Regions from separate parts of the Homo sapiens genome. Here all the other regions are linked to region 3. Evidence: fine-mapped expression QTL. A gene starts in region 3. Each other region holds a variant in brackets. All regions are shown on one strand. Distances are from middle to middle. Region 1 overlaps ITGA11 (integrin subunit alpha 11). Region 2 overlaps ITGA11 (integrin subunit alpha 11). Region 3 holds the start of ITGA11 (integrin subunit alpha 11).

What was found. PIP is the estimated chance that this variant, and not a neighbour inherited with it, causes the effect.
Region 1: its variant is the best candidate, but not a certain one, in a credible set for the expression of ITGA11 in cerebellar hemisphere (GTEx, PIP 0.74).
Region 2: its variant is the best candidate, but not a certain one, in a credible set for the expression of ITGA11 in monocytes after LPS (Quach 2016, PIP 0.85).

Annotation. Positions count from the first base shown.
Region 1 is chr15:68,332,901-68,338,873 of GRCh38, forward strand. It overlaps ITGA11 (integrin subunit alpha 11), which reads right to left. Exons shown (of 30, transcript NM_001004439.2): 12 at 2,797-2,945. Among named protein-coding and RNA genes, the nearest start is that of FEM1B, 58 kb to the left of the region's middle. The variant C/T (reference allele first, on the strand shown) is at 2,905.
Region 2 is chr15:68,341,456-68,347,428 of GRCh38, forward strand. The region is part of intron 10 of ITGA11 (integrin subunit alpha 11); the gene reads right to left. Among named protein-coding and RNA genes, the nearest start is that of FEM1B, 67 kb to the left of the region's middle. RefSeq lists an enhancer at 404-999. The variant A/G (reference allele first, on the strand shown) is at 2,796.
Region 3 is chr15:68,429,180-68,435,152 of GRCh38, forward strand. ITGA11 (integrin subunit alpha 11) reads right to left here and starts at 2,984. Exons shown (of 30, transcript NM_001004439.2): 1 at 2,836-2,984. The coding sequence starts at 2,887. RefSeq lists an enhancer at 1,385-2,144 and a silencer at 4,691-4,985.

The DNA of each region.
Region 1 (5,973 bases), 96 kb before region 3:
TGTGTATATATGCTTTTATTTTTACAAATTGGGGTAATAAGGCAAATATAGTTTATATACTGATTTTTAAATAAAACAATACATCATGAACATTTTTCTATGATGTATTATATTTTCATCTACAACATAATCACTGGTCATTCCACAGTGCTCCAAATTATGCATGTATCATAATGTGTTTAATCAGTTATTGCTGGACGGTTAGCTTTTTTTTTTTGAGGCAAGGTTTTGCTCCATCACCCAGACTGGAGTGCAATGGTGCAATCTTGGCTCACTGTAGCCTCAAACTCCTGGGTTCAAGTGATCCTCCCATCTCAGCCTCCTGAGTAGCTGGGACCACAGGCACTTACCACCGCTCCTGGCTGTTTTAAAAAATTATTTGTAGAGATGGGGTCTCACTATGTTGCCCAGGCTGGTCTGGAACTCCTACGCTTCAGTGATCCTCCCACCTCAGCCTCTCAAAGTGCTGGGATTACAGGTGTAAGCCACTGTTTTTAATTTTTGATGTTATAAATCATTCTGGCATTAGCATCGTGGATGGTGAATTATGATTTCTTTCAGTGTCTGAGCACTTGCTGTGTTCCCCTTCTGTTTGGGGTACAGTGCTCCCCACTTCAGTGAGGGCAACATCCACCCCCTCATCAGAAACCCAGAAACCCTGACTCCACCCTCCACCTCTCCCACCCGTAAACCTGCCAGCAAGTGCTACGTGGTGGGTGCCAATTCACCAACTGCTCCCCCCTGCTTCGTCCCTAGGTGAGGCGCCTTCTAAAGGGCCTTCCAGCCTCAGGCTGGCCCCTTCAGCCCACCCCCATGGCAGCTGGCGTGGCCTCTAACACCACTCCACCTCTTGCTTTTGGGATAGTATCTAAACTCTCTAGCAGGACCGTGCTGGACCAGCCTCCCTCCCCAGCCTCTGTCCCCACAAGCTCCTGCTCCCACTGCAGTGCTCCCGGGTCCTGCCAAACTGAGTTATTTCTCTTCTCCAAAGGCCCCAGGCCTTGGCTGGCTTCCAGGCTTCCCTCTGCACAAGCTTTTCTCTTGCATGCACTCCCCGCCCCTGCGTCCTCCCCAGACCATCCCCTGCCATCCCTCAAGTCTCAGCTGATGTGTCACTTCCTGTTAGAAGCTATCCTTGACCTTCTCCACTCTGCTCCCTGCCCCTTTTCCATGTGCCTTCAGCTCCATACTCCTCCCACCAGCCCCCACTCCCTCTGCTGGGAGCCTCATGAGGGCAGGCATTGAGCCTGCTGTGTTCCCTCTTGGCCAGGGTACTTTGCCTGGCACACAGAAGGTACCTAATTAATGCTTATTGGATCACTGGGTAGCTTAGGAAAGGGGAAGGCGCCCTGTTCGTGGACAAGCCCTGTGTGGGATGGTTTATAGCCTTGGGTTAGCTCATGTGAGCCCCATGCTGCTAGGAGAGAGAGTCATCCTCATTTTCAAGGGAAGGAACCAAAACTCAGAGAATTGCTTGCCCAAGGTCAGAAGGCCGGTCACCTGGTCACTGCCAAGCTGGTTGGAACTGGGGTCTGTCTGACACCCTGGCTCATGATTCTGCCTACCCCGTCCATCTCTGGCTTAGCGTGTTTTCAGGAGAAATCTATTCTCAAGGATGAAAAGCTTTTAACTGAGGAGAAGGATAAAAAATTTAGAAGAGAGGAAAGGGAAATAATACACATGGGTGGGAGAGGGAAGAGATGTGCCTACATAAAGTAACTAAGAAGCGGACAGACAGCAAGTGAGGGAGGGGGCGGGAGAAATTTGTCTAAATATGTGGCCTCAGCTATGTGGGTCACCGCGATTTGGAATTCACTTAATTTAGCTGCCTTCAGCACTGTGGTTTCTCCTTCGGATGTTGGAGGCGGAACTGGGCAGGAAAAATGTCATAAATTCATCAGCAAATTCCCTCCAGCTCTCAAGGTCTAGCCCTCGATTCCCAAAAGAGCTGGCCCTGGGTGAGTGTGGGCAGGCAGGGTGGAGGGTGAGAGCTGAGCTGCCTGGGATGGCCTGCACCCAAGAGACAGGAGGAGGAATGGCAGGAGGGTGGCGCTCTGCAGTGAGAGGGATTTAGGTTAGACTCGGTGAGGAGCGGATTCTCACAGTGACCAGCCAAGGGCAGTCAGAGACTCAGGAGACAGGACTGTTCCCAGGCTCAGGAGAGCCGGCAGGGAGCTGGGGACAACATGGAAGGGCCTGGACAGCACTCAGCTCTGGCCTAGAGAGGGCACAGATGCTGCTGGTTAGGAGGAGCCCAGGCCTGATTTTGGGGTTATTTGGGGTCAGGAGGTGGCATGATGCAGGCAGCCCCACCAAGAGGGTTCTTGGCTTGACCCAGTCATGAATTTGCCATAGAACCCTGGGAAAGCCACCTTGCTTCCCAGGAGCCCAGTTTTCCCCTGTGCTGGAAGTGACTTGGGATTGGAGCCCTGTTTTCACCACCAATGACTCTTATAGCTTTCCAATTTGCATTCATCATTGTCCACCACAGGACTCTTGGCAGCACAGTCTGGTTGCCAACCACCTCCCTGTGGGGCAATGGCATTGGCAGCCTTCCCATTCCTCATTGCTTCCATTCCAGGAAAAGGGAAGCAGCTGGCATCCTGGAGGGCCCATGGGGCCTTCTGTAGGTGGATGCGCACTCCTGCCACTCCTGGCAGCATGAAGGTGGCTGGAGGAACATGACTGCCCTTTGGGGCACCCAGTGGTCCAGGCATGCCTGTATTTACTGCCCTCCCATTTGTCTGATCTGCCCCCTCTTCCCTCCATCCCGGCCCCAGGCTCCCCCTCCATTACCTGCTGGCCCCGCATAGCCTGGTGGATGGTGAGGCTCCGGTTGTTGTGCATGGTGAACAGGATGACCTTGCCCGTGTGGTTGAACCGGGGGGCTCCGGCCACGTACAC[C/T]CGCCCCTGCCTGGAGGACACGACCGATGTGACTGTGTACCCTGCCACAGGAGGAAACAGGCTGATCTTTGGCACCGTGTCCTCAGCAGGCGTTGCTTGGCCCGGTGCATGGCTTGGCAGTGCCAGAGGATGGGCCAGTGATGGGGTAGGTTCAGGGCTAGCTGAGCAGATTCAATCACGCAGGGCCATAATTCCTAGGGGCAGCTGGGGAGGCCTGGAAGAGGCAGGACCCAGGAAGGGGGTTTGGAGGGTAGGGAGAACTCACTGCACCCCAGCCCCTGCTGGAGAAAATAAAGGAAGCCAGGTGGGACTGCTAAAAGACTAACTTGAAATGCACACATCCCTCCTTCACCTGCTCATGAGCACAGCAGAGGGCAATGGGGAGTAGGGCAGACTCTAGCCTCACTTCAGTTAATACTGGGGAGACTTTGTTTTGGTTCCCCACCAATCTTCACTCTTGGAGACTAACCAGGGTTCTCTTTATTACCACAAACGCCTGCTAAGTGGCTCACTGAGGACTAGAGTGTGAGCCGTAAATGTGGAAGGAGTTGGTCTGCTTCAGATATTTACATGGGGTCTCAGGGATTCTTGCAGCCCCAAAGCTTTGCAGACTCAAAGGTGGAAGCTCCTAGGCTCTTGTCAGCCCCATACATACAGCATGCCAAAGAGAAAGAAAAGGAACCCCAGGGGCTCTTTTGGAAAGGCTGCCAATCCCCGCTCCCGGTATGGCTGTGCCTGATCACTGTGAATCTCAAGTCGCCCACCCAGTACCCAGGAAGCAAATGTGCAGCAACTTCAGGCAACTCTCCTGAAAGTGGGCTCCAGCAGGTGTGGAAAGCCGATGGCATCCTAGAATTCCACTTTCTGCCAGATAATCTTGGATCCCAGATTTTAGATGAGTGTTGGACTTTGTTGACAGTTCCTGGGCTGTTTCTGGGGAACAGATGTCCCCTGCAATGCACGTGTGTGAGTGTGTGTGTGCACATATATGCGTGTGCATCTGCGTATCTGTGTGTGTAACACTGTCACTTGGGTCTCATTGGCTGCTTCTAGAGTGGCTATAGGGTGTACAGATGAGCTGACTCAGTGCCTGGGGGTGAACTGCTCTGGTTCCAGACACAACAGTTTTCACTCTTGAGGCTGTACTTTGGGAAATGAGGCTTGACAGGTCCATAATACCAAGACCTCACAAGGGGTGGCTAACATGGCCATGTATTTAGAGCAATCATAAATATATGGGTGGGTGGGCTTAGCCTTGTGGTGTAGGGCAAAGGTTTCTTCTGAGCTGAGCCCTCAGTGGCACTACTGTAAATGTTCTCAGTTGGTCTTGGGCTTCTGGGCCTGCTTGGAAGGAGGGGCACTGAGATGCAGTTTGAGGTCCAAGTGTCCTCTGGGCAGGCATGGGTCAGCATTCAAAGTTCACAGAGCTTCCTGCCTTCCAGCTGTCTGTGGGCAGCACCTTTGGTACCCAGGCAACTCTCTGGCCAGCAGGAAGGGCCATTCTGAGGCTGGGCCAGCCTCCCTGAAGGCCTGATGAAAGGGTAGGACCATGGCCCGAAATTTATACTGCACCCCCAGTGGAGGCTGGGAGCTGGCCTCCTGGTCTCCTTCCCCTGTAGGGCTCCTCTCCCTTGAAACACAGGAGGAATCTTCCAGCAGGCATCTCTGCCCCAGCAGAGAACCCAGACACTGCTCTCACTGGATGACTCCTAGACGGAGGAGGAGGAGGAGAAAAGGCACTCCCTCAAGACCCCCACCCAAGGCAGTGACTGTGGCTAAGGCATGACAGCTGGGCCTCATGAGTGTCCATCAGCCAAGCTCTACCCTATCAGGGTCTTCTGGGAGGGGAAGCAGGGTGGCTTTGCTGGGCCAGGGGGATATTCATCCTGCTGAGCTCTCACTCAGATATGTTCAGCTCCCTGTTGCCAACATGAAAAAGCTCAAACGTCTTAATCTGGCATTCGAGGCCTCCTGCTACAGTCTATCCCAACCTTCCCTCTCCTCCATGTTCCCACTTCTGCCCCCTGCTCCAGCCACACTCATCTACTTCTTGGGTCCTGAAATAACCTGGTATTTCCCACATGTTCCTCCTTTTCTTGGCCCTTCTTGGCTTATTTGAAATGGCCCCTGCGGTGGAGACCTGGTGTAGGCTCCAGCTCCTACACAGTAGGTCCCGAGTGTACCAGCTCGCTGGACCATGGCCAACCACATCGTTTCTCTGACTCACTTGGAATTAACCTCATGGGCCCTGGGACACCCTGATGTGATCTGCCTTGCTGTTTAATGCCTCGAGGCACCTGCACCTTGCACCCCTTCTTTGGTTTCCTCACTTCCAGCACAGGGCTGTACACTTGGGAGGAAACACAATAAAACACGAGTCATTCTAGTTTCTAGTTAAAGGGTTGCTAGCCTTTGTTCTTCCAGCATCTTTCCCAGTGTTTGAGCATTTGCCAAGGCAAGGACTCCAATCTTTCTCTCCTTTATTTGTGCTTTTATCTGAGCTCCTACCTCAATTGTGTTATAATTATCTGCGCACATGTCTGTGTCTCCCACTGGCCCAGAAGCAGCTTGAGGGCAGGCGCTGTGTCCTGCTTACCACGGCACTTAACATGGCACTCTGATGGCATCAACTGCAGGTGCTATGCAATTCAGGTTTAACACCTTGCGAATTAAATGGAACGCAGGCCCTAGGGCCAGGTGCTGTTGGGAAACTTCTAGGGATCTACATTTCTGAATTTTCTAGCACAGTCCTGATTCCAGCATTTTGCCCTTTTGTCAGCTGAGGGTCCCATGGTTGGGGATAGAAAACAGGGTAACCACAGGGTGGGCAGAGTCATAGGCAGGGTATTGGCTAACGAGCTGAGGAACAAAGGTTGGGATGGGATGAAGCATCAGAAAGATGGACGCATGGACAGATTCGCTGTCCACTCTGGGTGGCCCCAAGTCCATGGAGGAGTGGGGTCCGAGGAGGCCTCAATGAGGAGTAACTTCACAGACAGTGGATTTGGTTCAGAAATTCTGAAAGACCCAGAGACAGTGGGGACCCTGAACATCACCCCCCTTGCCGCC
Region 2 (5,973 bases), 88 kb before region 3:
TTGAGGTTCAGAGGGGGAAGGGACTTGCCCAAGGTCACACAGCAAGTCAGAGGCAGGGCTGGGGCTTTGACCAGAGAGGTAAGTAGGGCAGAGAAGAAAACATCTATCTGTTTCCCCAAAGCCTGCTGTGGGTCCAGCTTTCCATTTTCCACCTGAACCCTCCTGAGGGAGGGGCGCAGTATTTGGGGTCTGACTTTCTTCCTTGCTTTCCTCCCTCTCTCTGCCTGTTGAGTCCAAGTTTGTAACTGCAGACCTGGCTTCTGTGCTTCATGGACAGGCCTTTGAAGATGAATTTCTGGCTCTGCAGATGACAGGGAGCCCCTGTGATGTACTGAGAAGGGCTGGCTTGGCCCAGGGGCGTGGGATTCAGCCGGGGAGACCCCTCACACTGATTCTCCCTATGGGAGCTTGGGGAATTCCGTCATGACTTCTGGATTTGGCAACACTTGGCCAGGCGATCGCTTACAGTCTCCCACCTCATCCCATTTTAACCCTGACAGCAGCTGCAGTCTTGGGCCTGCAGTGGGAGGCCCTTTCCTGAGAGTGAATTTGTTGTGGCCAGGGAGAGTCTTCTGAGGATGGGGACACTGTGAGGAGTAGACAGGTTAAGGCCACTGAAGCAAGCCTTAGTATGTCACAATCTCTTCCCAGCTGGGGAAGCCCAGACATTTTGAGTTTAGAAAAATCTAGAAGGGTGGGGCAAAAAAAGAGAAGGGACCAAATCCTTAATAGGGGAAGTCAGGCACGTGGGCCCAGCTGGCAAACAAACAGTGGGCATTCCCGGGAAGAGCTGTGTCCCCCGCTCTGCAGGCCTCGCACTGGCTTCCTGTTTTATAGCCTCCTTTCCTATGTGGGGCCACCTGGGCTCCCACCAGATATTACCAGGGTGTGCCTGGGTGGCCTTGCACGAGGGGACCTTCCCCACAAGCTGATTTTCCTGGCGTTCTGTGTAGACATGAGGTCTCAGGCTTGGCAGCTGTCAGAAGGTCTGAGGCCACGCTGTGCCTTCCCAAAGGACGTTGTAGCCCTAGCACCTGCAGTGTGTGTAGCTCCCTCCACCAGACCCTGCCAACTCAGCTCTCAGCTGCCCTCTGACCTGGCCTCTGAGGCAGTCTTGCCTTCCCAGCTGAGCTGCGTGCTCCCAGGGTGTGTGACCATATCTCTCAAAGCCCTGTGTTCCGGCCAGTCCATGTCCCAAGCCAGGGTTGGACCACAGCCCCGGCAGTGAAGGCAGCATGGTCTAGGGCAGTGCTGCTCAGCCGGGGCAGGTTTGTGCCCTAGGTGATATTTGCTTGTTACAGCTGGGGGTAGTGGTGGGGGTGCTACTGGTGTCTAGTGAGTCGAGGCCAGAGATGCTGCTAACCATCCTACAATGCACCAGATGGTCCCTTACGGCAGAGTTATCCAGCCCAAGATGTCACTAGGACAGAGGTGGAGGATCCCTGGCGTGGTGGTGAGAGCAGGAAGGAGTTCTGGAGTCAGAGGCTTCTGAGTTCCACTTCCAGCTCAGAGCTTCTAGCTGTGTGACCCTGGGCAAGTTCTTCTCTCTCTCTCTCTCTCTCTCTCTCTCTCTCTCTCTCTCTCTGAACCTTGAGTTCCTCAGCTGTAAAATAGTTCTGTTGTGAAAATCAGCATTTTTAATTCTTAGCAGGGCACTTGGCAGCCAGTGAGTACTTGGTACATGGTAGCTCTTCTCGTTCATGAATCCATCTGTAAGCATCTCCCCAGTGGTCGGGAGTCGAAGAATCAGGTGTCACAGTCACGTTCGTCATTGCGGTAGCATGTGAGAAGTGCTCTGATGGAGTCAGGGACCGGTTATTTTGGCAGTCCCAGGAGCAGGTGAACAACTGAGAAGAGGGGGTGAGTACATAGTAGGGTTAGGAAAGGCTTTTAAGAAAATCTTACTTGATTTATTAGTAAGTCTCAAAACGAACACTTCCAGTTCCAAGCCTTGATTCGATTTCACAAATATTCTTCAGACATCTACTAAGACAAGCTCAGACAGGTCAAATGATTTTTCTGAGCCCACATGCCAGACAGTGCTTCCCTCTTGCCCAGTAGTCACGGAATTAGGATACCAGGTGCCAGTAATTCTTCCTTCTAGCTCTTTTTGGCTTTTGTGAGGCAAGACGATGGAGCCAGGTGGAGGTAGTCGCTGGTGGTGCTGTGGGCTGGTGTGATGGGAGACCCCTAGAGGACACCGAGGCTGTCCTCCCCCGCCAAACTCCCGAGAGTCCACGTCAGAGTGGCTGTAGAGGGGTGAGGCTCTGTTCCCAGGAGCCCCTTCTAAGGCACATACACCATTTAGAGGGTGGATTATGCTTTTTCACTAATGGCTTGGAGTCTTAGAAGGCTTGTTTCAACAAGCTTGAAGTGGACCTGAGGAAGGGATGAATGGCCAGGAGGCTTAAATGGGGTGTGGGCAGGAAAGGCCCAGAAACAGCCCCTCTGCCTTTCTGTGGAGGAGGGGCCCTCACCATGTGCGGTGCTGGAATCCGGCAGCTGGGGTGAGCAGAAGGGGCCGCGGGGACCTGGGCGTGCTACACTGACTGCTCATTCCCCATCAGAGTTGGTTGCCTCCTGTCAGAGGCCCTGGGAAAGAGACCCAGGAGTGGGCACTAGGGCACAGCCTGAGGATATGGGGCCAGGCTTAGGAGGACCCGAATGAACCAGAAATGATTCCTGCCACCAGGAGACAACTCGCAAACCCTTGGGACCAGCGTGGCAGAGGACCTCAGCTGCTGTGTCCTGGACCCCTGGGGAGAGGGCCAGGAGACCATCTTGACTGCCCGCCC[A/G]GCCTGGCAGGTGAAGGAGTCTATTGTTTAGGTCTAGGGGGGCACAGGAGGGGTTTACAGCTTCCACAGGTCAACTCCTCAATTCACCATTATCCATCAGCTTCTCTCATTTTTTGTTGAATCAGATACGCAAAACCAGTTCAAATGCGAAACCCTTAGGGAAGATTACACCTCTAAAGCTTCAGCCACTAAGAACCTTAGCGAATAGCCAATACCCTTCATTGTCTAGACCTCAATCCCAGGAGGGCCTGTGGGATGGGCACAGGCTGAAGAGGCAGGAGGGTGGCTGGGGTAGCTCATCTGGGATGTTTATACCTCCAGAGGGGGACTAGACTCGAAGACTCGGTAATCCCATGGGCCTTGAGGGGAAGAAGCGGAGGGAGAAAGAGGACTACAAATAATTGATGCGCATGGGTGATGGTGCTGCAGAGGACCCTCCCACACAGGGCTCAGCTGAACTTGACCTGCTTCATAACAGAACTGAGCACTGGTCCTGTTAGGTCATCACGTGCAGGGTAAGTGACCTCACCTTTAGGTACAAGAGAAAAAGGATCTCTTCCCACCTTGGGTGAGTCACCAAGGTTTCTGCGTAGACAAGATCTACCCTGATAAAACTGCTTCCTTCTGTAAACTTTTGGAGTTAGGGCAGATTTAGGATTCCAGTGTAGGAAGGCGGATGCGAAATCCCTCCAGCTGAGCCCTCTGCACACCGTCACCCATGCCCATCAATTCTTTGTAGTCCTCTTTCTCCCTCTGCATCTTCCCCTCAAGGCCCATGGGATTACAGAGTCTTAGAGTCTAGTCCCCCTCTGGAGGTGTGAATCCCTTCTCCCAACTTTCTGGCAGATTGTTGCAGCTCCTGCTTGATTACCCAGCTTGACAGGTAGTTCACTACCTCAGCAGACAGCCAGCACTAATGGAAGCCACTCTGGCTCTTAGTGACCTTTGCGTTCATTTCCAAATGCTAATGGAAGCATTAGCTTAAAAATGTATTCTAAAGTCTGACCAGGGATCCACAGCTAGCCTTCCTGATGATAATTTTTGGAATATTTTCTTTCCCCTTTCTGCAAATCAAGACTAGGGTTTCCAGCTACCCGGGTTTTCCCAATGGCTCAGACGTTTTGCCTTCAGCCTGGAATGTAATGTTTTGGGGCCCTGGACTCTGTGGGTGTCCAGGTGATGTCTTGGGGTCTCCCCTGTACCCTGGGCTCTGGTCCCTTCTCTCTCCTGTTGTTTTTACCCTTGCTAATTCAAAGACTGATTTCCTTGCTCATTAAGACGGCAGCAAACCAAGCAAGGAGGAGCCGGGCCTTTCTTCTGCCATCTGAGAACATTCTACTAGGGATCTCTCCTTCTACCAGAACTAAACAGGCCCGGGGAAGCCCCTCAGGCTCCTTCAGTATCTCTTCAGGCAGCAGCTGTTTGAGACCATCTGTGGCGCTTCTGGCAGGGAGGAAGCCTGGGGGCTTGCCTGGGAGACAGACATGCTCAGGGCAAAGTGGAAAGGCTGGACCCAATAGCCCTGATCCCCAGAGAGGCCTAACTGACCCTGAGAGCTGAGGAGTTGGACTCCTGGGGACAGGATGGCTGTGGCCATTCATGATGGCATCAGCGGCCTGGCACTGAAAGACGTCTGTGCTCTAAAATAGCCCCCAGTGCCCGGTCACAGAGCCAGCCAGCCCATCATGCTTGCACCATTCCTGTGCATTTGAAAGGTTTTTGTTTTTGTTTTTGTTTTTAATACTAAAGAGTCTCAGATTCAAATGCGATCGTTGTCTCTCTTAAAGTCAAATTAGATGAAAATATCAGGGGTGATGGAAGAACTAGGGTATGAGGAAGAGTCAAGCTAGGTCCCTGTGTCGGGGTGATGGAAGAACTAGGGTATATGGGAGAGGCAAGCTGCATCCCTCTGCCTGGGGAACAGAGAAGTTGAGCATATGTGGAAGGGGCTGCACATGGCAGTCATGACCTTGACGTGACCGAAGTCTTGTGCTGAGGCTGTGAGCTCCTGGGTCTCCTCACTCTGGAAGCTGGGGAACCTGTTGATCCTGCAAGGACTCACCTTGCTCAACACTGAACTGCTGGAGCCATTTTCAAGGCTCAGCTCAAGCTTCCCTGAGTCCCTGAAGCCCATTTTAATGTCCTCCTCTTTTTAGATTCCCCGATTCCTAGGCAGACACAGATCATGATTTTAGAAGCAGGACAGTGAGCTGATTATTTAAGAGTCTTTCTCCCCAGCTAGGCTATGAATGGCTGTCAGCTGAAATGTTTCTTTAATGTACCTGGTACAGAGTCTGACACACATGAAGATACTCAAAAAATGGCTGTGAATGGACAAAGGAAACATTGGGACATTCATTTTCTCTTCTGTCCCCAACACCAGGGCTGACCTCTGAGCTGTGCCAGGATGTCACCCAGTGTGTGTCCATAATGCTCTCTGTTCTCCTGCTTACTGCCACCCAGGACTGCTGAAATCCGTGTCCTTTAGGGGCAGCTCGAGTGCCAAGCCCTCTCCGGATCTTTCCCTGACCACCCCTTCTTTTAGTGGAGGCCCTTCCTTCTATACTACCTTGATCACGTTGCTTTGGTTAACATTAGACATGTGCATGTCTCCCCCTATCCCCTGCATTGAGCAGGGGGTCTTCACAGGGGATCTTCGGATGAGGGGGGCCTCCAGGTATTGTACACTTTTACCTAGAAGGCATCTATAGTTTCTTTCATCCTACTCTCAAAGCTAAGAACTGCCGTTCAGGATTGTTTACAAGTTGACTCCTGGTGGCAAGAATCATTTCCGGGTCCTTTCAGCACTTTAGTGGCACTTGACAAATGCATGTAGATTTAATTAAATTGCATTTCCTTGTTGCGTTTTCTAATCAGCTCTGACGTCAGAGTCTGGAGACCAGGGCTGGTCCTGCCAGAGCACATGACTCTGCTGGCCCCCACATGAATGGATGCTCTCACCTCGCTGTGCTGGGCTCTTTACCCTCAGACTCTGAGCTCCTTGAGGGCAGGGCTCCCGCCTCTGATTCTCCTGGCATCAGGCTCAGGACCCAGCACAGAGAAGGCACTGAAAAGAGTGGCTGATCCAACCACCTAAAATGGGATAACTATCATCACCTGCCAACCTTGTAGGGCTGTTCTGGTGTGAAATGAGGTGCAGGAATTTCCTGGAGAAGTT
Region 3 (5,973 bases):
TATTACCCCCACTTTGTAGGTGAGGAAACTGAGGCACAGAGCCATGGAGTAACTTGCCAAGAGCACAGAGCCCTAACCGGCAGGGGCTAGGCCAATCCCAGGCAGTGAAACTCCAGGGCCTCCACCCTTACGCTGTGTCTGATCTCACTTTGTGTCTTTATGGGGCCTGGCAGATAACAGGTGCTCAGCAAAGATTATGCTTCTAAGAATCATCACCCTTCCTACAGATAGGTTATGACTGTAAAGCTCTGGTCAATGGATCTCTCTCTTTGGACTTGATTACTTTTTTTTTAGGCTTTCCTGTTAGTTTTGTCTACCCCATCACGCTGTCCAGCCTGCAGCTGGAGCTCTGGGAGAGTAGATGCTCTGAGGTCTCACCCTCAACTTGGCCTCTGACAGGTTCCCTGCCCAGCCAAACTGCCATCACCAGTAGACAAGCTTCCTGGTAATCCTCACATTGAATTCATGTGATGCATGGATGAGGTATCAACATCAGTCCTGTCCTGGAGCCTGAGGAGTGAACCCAATGATCCCTGAGACCCTTCTAGTCTTCAAAGTCCACACTGACCAGAGTGGTTTTAAAATATTCATCATCTTCTTTAACTAGTCTCAGAAAATAATACTCCAAAATATGAACATTCCCACTTTCAGGCCCATGCACACTCTACACACTTTTCCAGGGCCAGTTCAAATGATATCTCCTCCTCCAGGAAGCCTTCCTTGCTTATCTGGCTGAAATTGAACTTCTCTTGTTTGAACACCCAGCCCTTGGTTTCCCCAAGCCATTCACTCCCTGGTGCCTCTGTTTAGCTTTCCCTGGCCTTGGCTTATTCTCAGTTACAGGCAGGACCCAGATTGCACACACGCTAGGGCCCCACCCCCAGCTCCTTGCAAGCAGATGTCATTGTTCCAACATTGATTGATATGTTTAATGAATCCCATATTTCAAGAATGCAACTGACCAGACATAACTCAGGAGTGGTTTTCGCCATATAAGCGGAGCTCTGAGTCACAAATCCTGTGTCTTCAGAGGTCCTTTAATGTCATTCTCTGCCCCCTCCTCCTTGAGTAGCAACAACATTAACAACCATTGATTAAAGCCTACTGTGCACCCAGCCCTGTGTTAAGGGCCTTTCTTACAGTGCCTTAGTGCATCCTGACAACTTTACAGGACACGGAATTTGTGTCTCCATTCTTCACATAAGGAAACCTGTTGGAAAGGTCGCATAACCAGTCCAAGATTGAACAGCTAGCAGGGTGCAGAGCCAGAAGTGGAAGCCAGGTCTGATTCCAAAGCCATTGCTCTTAGCTTCCTGAGGTCCAGGCTGTCCCTAGCCCCTAAGGCAGCCACTCCTTCCCAAGGTTCTGATGCAGCCACCTATCTGGAGTCACACAGGAGTGCGTCTCTTTTCTTGTGGCTGGATCTCCTAGTGATATGAGGACAGTTCCTGGAGAAGATTCTCCCCTCCTGTCTAAACACACCTAAATGGGCTTGGCCTCCTCCCGCAGCTGGCTTCTAGTTGCATATTGGCCTGGTGGCAGTTCTTCCCCTGCTCTCCCTTCCAAGCCCCCACAACTCAATGTATCAATGATTGTTTTAAACTGTGACTCTAGGATTCCACTAGCCAGAGGCCCTTTCAACCATGGGCCCTCTGAGAAGCTCCTCTGTAGGCCGACAGGAGGGTGGACTTGCTTCGCGTGGTACCCGGGGACTGGGGCAAGCGGCTGCGGGATAGGGGTCTCCACCTGAGCTCCCTGAGGGCACCTCTCCCACTACCACCGCATCTGACCCCCACTACTGGCCCCAGCTCGGGCCTGGAGCCCACGCAGAAGGGGAGGCAAGGTTGAGCGCCCACACCCGGCCAGTAACCGAGGCGCTGGCCCTTGCCGGAGCACTTGGCCGTCTTCCGCAGAACAGCATCACTGGCAGCCGCCCCGCGTGGAGGGTGGAGCCGGGGAGCCCGGTGTGGGACGGCCGGGGCCAGGGTACCCTAGGGCGGAGAGCTCAGGGCTGGCTTCCCGCTCCCAGCCGCGCGCCCCTCGGGCCGGAGGTTCCTGCCGCGCCCCGACACCTGGAGTGCATTAGGCGGCGGCGCGCGTCTAGGCGACGGCGGCTTTCCCCAGATTATTGAATAATTGCATAATTCCGAGCGCGGGTTGGGAGGCAATGCCGGGTCCCTACCCCGGGTGTCAGGTAACGTTTCGGGGGTCCTGCGCTGCGCGACTGTGTCCCGCCGCTGCTGGCCGGGCAGACGAGAGCTAGCCCCCGCCTACCGGCCATCGCCCCGGGGCTTTGCTCTGTCTTTGGCCGGAGGCACTCTGCGCAGCCCTCACCCCCACCCTTCAGCCCTCCGGGGCCGCCGCGCCCGGCTCTCCAAACTTTGAGATGCTTCCCCGGAGCCAGGCAGGAGGGCAGCCAGGGCACACTCTCTTGGCGCTGATTCCCTTCCCCAGCCGGGGCCGTGCGCCCTCGGCGCTCCCGGGACACCCGAGTGCCCCTGGCAGCCGTGCGGGAACCCCGGCATGGGCCTTGGAGGCACCTAAGGCGCCCAGGAGGGCCACCAGATCTGGGAGCTTTTCAACTCAAGCCTCTTCAACTCTTCCCAAACACACCAAAGAGTCCCGGCTTTCAATAGCCTTCGCACCTCCCTCTTTAGCGAAACTTGACTGAACCGCTAGACTGGGGCCAGTCCCTGGGGGACCCACGTCCCCAAGAGCAGCTGAGGTCTGACCCTGGGAGGAGGGTCGCGTCCCGATCCTGGCCGCTGGATCCAAGCCCCGAGGGCCCAGGGAGGGACTCCGAGAGGCAAGGGGAGGCAGAGGGTGGGCACCTACCTGGCCACAGGCTGAGCGCCCAGGCCACCACCAGGCCCCTGGGCAGGTCCATGGCCCGCGGCACGGCGGCTGGGTCCGGTGTGCAGCGGCGGCGGGGGGCGGCAAGCCAGAGCGGCAGCCTCCTCGGCGCGGCGCCTGCAGCCTGCACTGCGCGGGGCGCCGGGCTCCCTGACAGCTGCGGCTCATTCAGAGGAAGTGGGAGGGCTCGAGCGGAGGGGAGGGGCGCCGGACACCACTCCGGCTCGGGCTCTGGGCCAGTCTCGGCCGCTCTGCCACCTGGGCAGGCGGCGCGCTGCCTCGACGCGCCTGTGCAGCGCTCCTTCTCCGCCAACCCCACGTCAGCCTCTGGAGAAAACTCCAGAGAACCGCTCCTGGGAACCCCCTCACCAGTGTAGCACCGCACCGCCTCAGTCAGATTCTGTTCAGGAAAAGTGGTTTTTATTCCCATTTCCCAGTGAAAAGAGATTCACAAAACTCAGAGGGTACCCAAGCTGGCTCAGGAACACCTGCTGGAACGCAGGTCTCCCTTGGCCAAGTGAGTGGATGTCCCTCAAAGGTCCATTCTAAGACATCCCCGTGTCTCCCTGCACCCTGCGGCTTGAATTGTAGAGGCTAGTGTTTCTTCTGACCCTGGAATACATGCAGATTCGCCTCCACTGCCACTCCCTGAGCCTCCACACCTGAGGCATTCCAAAGCACCCAGGGACACCGTGCACCCCCTCTTAACCTAACGTGAAGCTCTTCTTTGTAACCCTGCCACCTTCTTTCCCTCTTCTAATCACTGGTAGTTAAATTCAATGCACATTTATCTCAAGAGCTTTAAATCCAGGCCCCGGACCTCCACCGCGCTTGTGGAGGCTTTTCCAGCAATGGAGGAAGCCGAGGCAGAGGGTAGGAAGGCCAAGATGCAGGGAAAGCCACAGCAGAGCGCCCTTCCCCCACTTTCTCAGGAAAGGCTTCCTTCACCCCCTCTTCCCGTCCCCACCAGGTTGAGTCCCAGACACATGCTGATATTCCCCAGCCCGCTCTCCCTCATTTCTCTTCATTGTGCTTAGTAGAGAAGCAAGGCATCAATTGGTGTGATCATTTAACTTTTCTCTCCTGTGCAGACTGAAAACACCATCAGGGTAGAAATCTCTGGTTCACAATGGAGTACTCAGCCCCTAACACCCAGGAACAAAGTAGGTGGGCGGGTGGATGGATGGGTGAGTACAGGTGGTGTGTGGGTGCACAAAGGATAGAGTTTTCTATCTGGGAGGTATTGGAAGGGCTTCCCAGAGGAGGTGATGTTCAGTCAGGGCCCCTGAAGATGAGCTGGAGTTTGAGAAGACCCAGGTTCACATAAGTGAAGTGGGCTTGTGCTCGTCTCCCAACCTCACTATCTTTCGGTTGGCTATCTGGGTTTTACTTCATCTTCACCTCACCCATTCAGCCACAGACTCGGGGAAGGTGATTCCGTCCCTGGTGTGTGTGTGTGTGTGTGTGTGTGTGTAAGGAGGCATGCGGTTCAGGCTGAAATGAATCAGTATGTTGCCCTTCCCAGCCCATCGTTTCAGAAAGGGCAATATGACAAAAGAAAAAGTTTTTTTGGGAAGCAAGCTTTCTTGCCTTTCTAAAAGAGCCCCTAGAACAAACAAACAAATGAACTAACTCTCTCTCCTCACCTCTCCCACTCCTGCCTCCTCTCCCAGCCTGGGACAAGGAACTTTGTAGGCTCAGAAGTTGACAGGGTCAGGGTAGGGAAGGAGGATCTGGCCTTGAGATGAGGTGGACACTGGATGACAGAATGGAGGATCTTGTTGAACTCCTGAATGAAGCCACCCCTTAACCCCACTCCCCTTGGGACTTATCAGTTATACGACAGTGAGTCCTCTTCACTGAGTTGAGTTTAAGCCAGCTGAGTTGAATGTAGAACACCCCTACAGCTAGGGAATGGGCTGCAGCCCACATTCCTGCCTTGCACAAATCTCCAGGTGCATCAGAACGACCTGGAGCACGTGCAAAGAATGCAAATTCCCCAAGGATCAGGGCATGCTGGTGGGTGCCCCAGGCACCTCTGACGTGTGGGTGGTCTGCAGCTTGTGCTCAGAGTCTGCATGCTGCTTGCTGAAGGGGCGCACTGTAGTGGCTGTCCTAGCTGCGCTGCTGCTGGTCTCGCTGGTAACAATTCTACCATTCATTCACCTTCACCGTCCTCACAGGTGCCTGGGGAATGGGGGTCCTGAGGATCACTCTGTGTGCTTTTGTGTAATGTGGGAGGGTGAGGGGAGAGGTGTGCCCTCATTTGTTCTTTCAACAGATCCTACAGAGTGCCTACTGTGCCCCTGTGCTCTGTAGGACACACGGAAGGAGAACCCCACACTAGGGCAGCTGGTGATGGAGCTGAGGAGACAAGACATAACCATGTATTTATTTAATCATAATCTGTTATTTATTAATCTATTTAAAACCATTTATTATTTCATCACTATTAAACATTATTTAAATCACACCCAAGGCAGCAGCATATGAGTGACAAGTGCACAATCCAGACTCTAAGGCTGGAGAACTGCAGAGAATTTGGTGAAGGGCTTTATGAAAGCTGTGATTTCTGTTGAATAATAATAATAACTCTTTACATGTACACAGTGTTTTAACTGATTTATTTATTCACATGCCATAAACTGTGCCATAGAATCCAGTAGTTGTTAGTATATTCACAAGATTGTAAAATCATCCTCACTAATTTCACAATATTTTTATCACCCCAAAAAGAAGCCCTGTAACCATGAGCAGTCACTCCCCATTCCTTCCCACCAGTCCCTGGCAACCACAAATCTATTTCTATGGATTTGCCTATTCTGGACGTTGCATATAAATGAAATCATATAATACGTGACCTTTTGAGTCTGGCTTCTTTCCCTTAGCATGATGTTTCCAAGGTTCATCCATGTTGCAACATGTATCAGTATTTCATTCCTTTTTATTGCCAAGTAACATTCCATTGTATGGATCTACCCCCTTTTGTTTATCCATTCATCAGGTGAGGCTTATTTAGGTGTTTCCACTTTAGGTTATTGTGAATAATGTGGCTATGAACACTTGTGCTGCCGGTCTTGCTGGTAGCAGTTCTACCATCCATTAACATAGCATAATGTT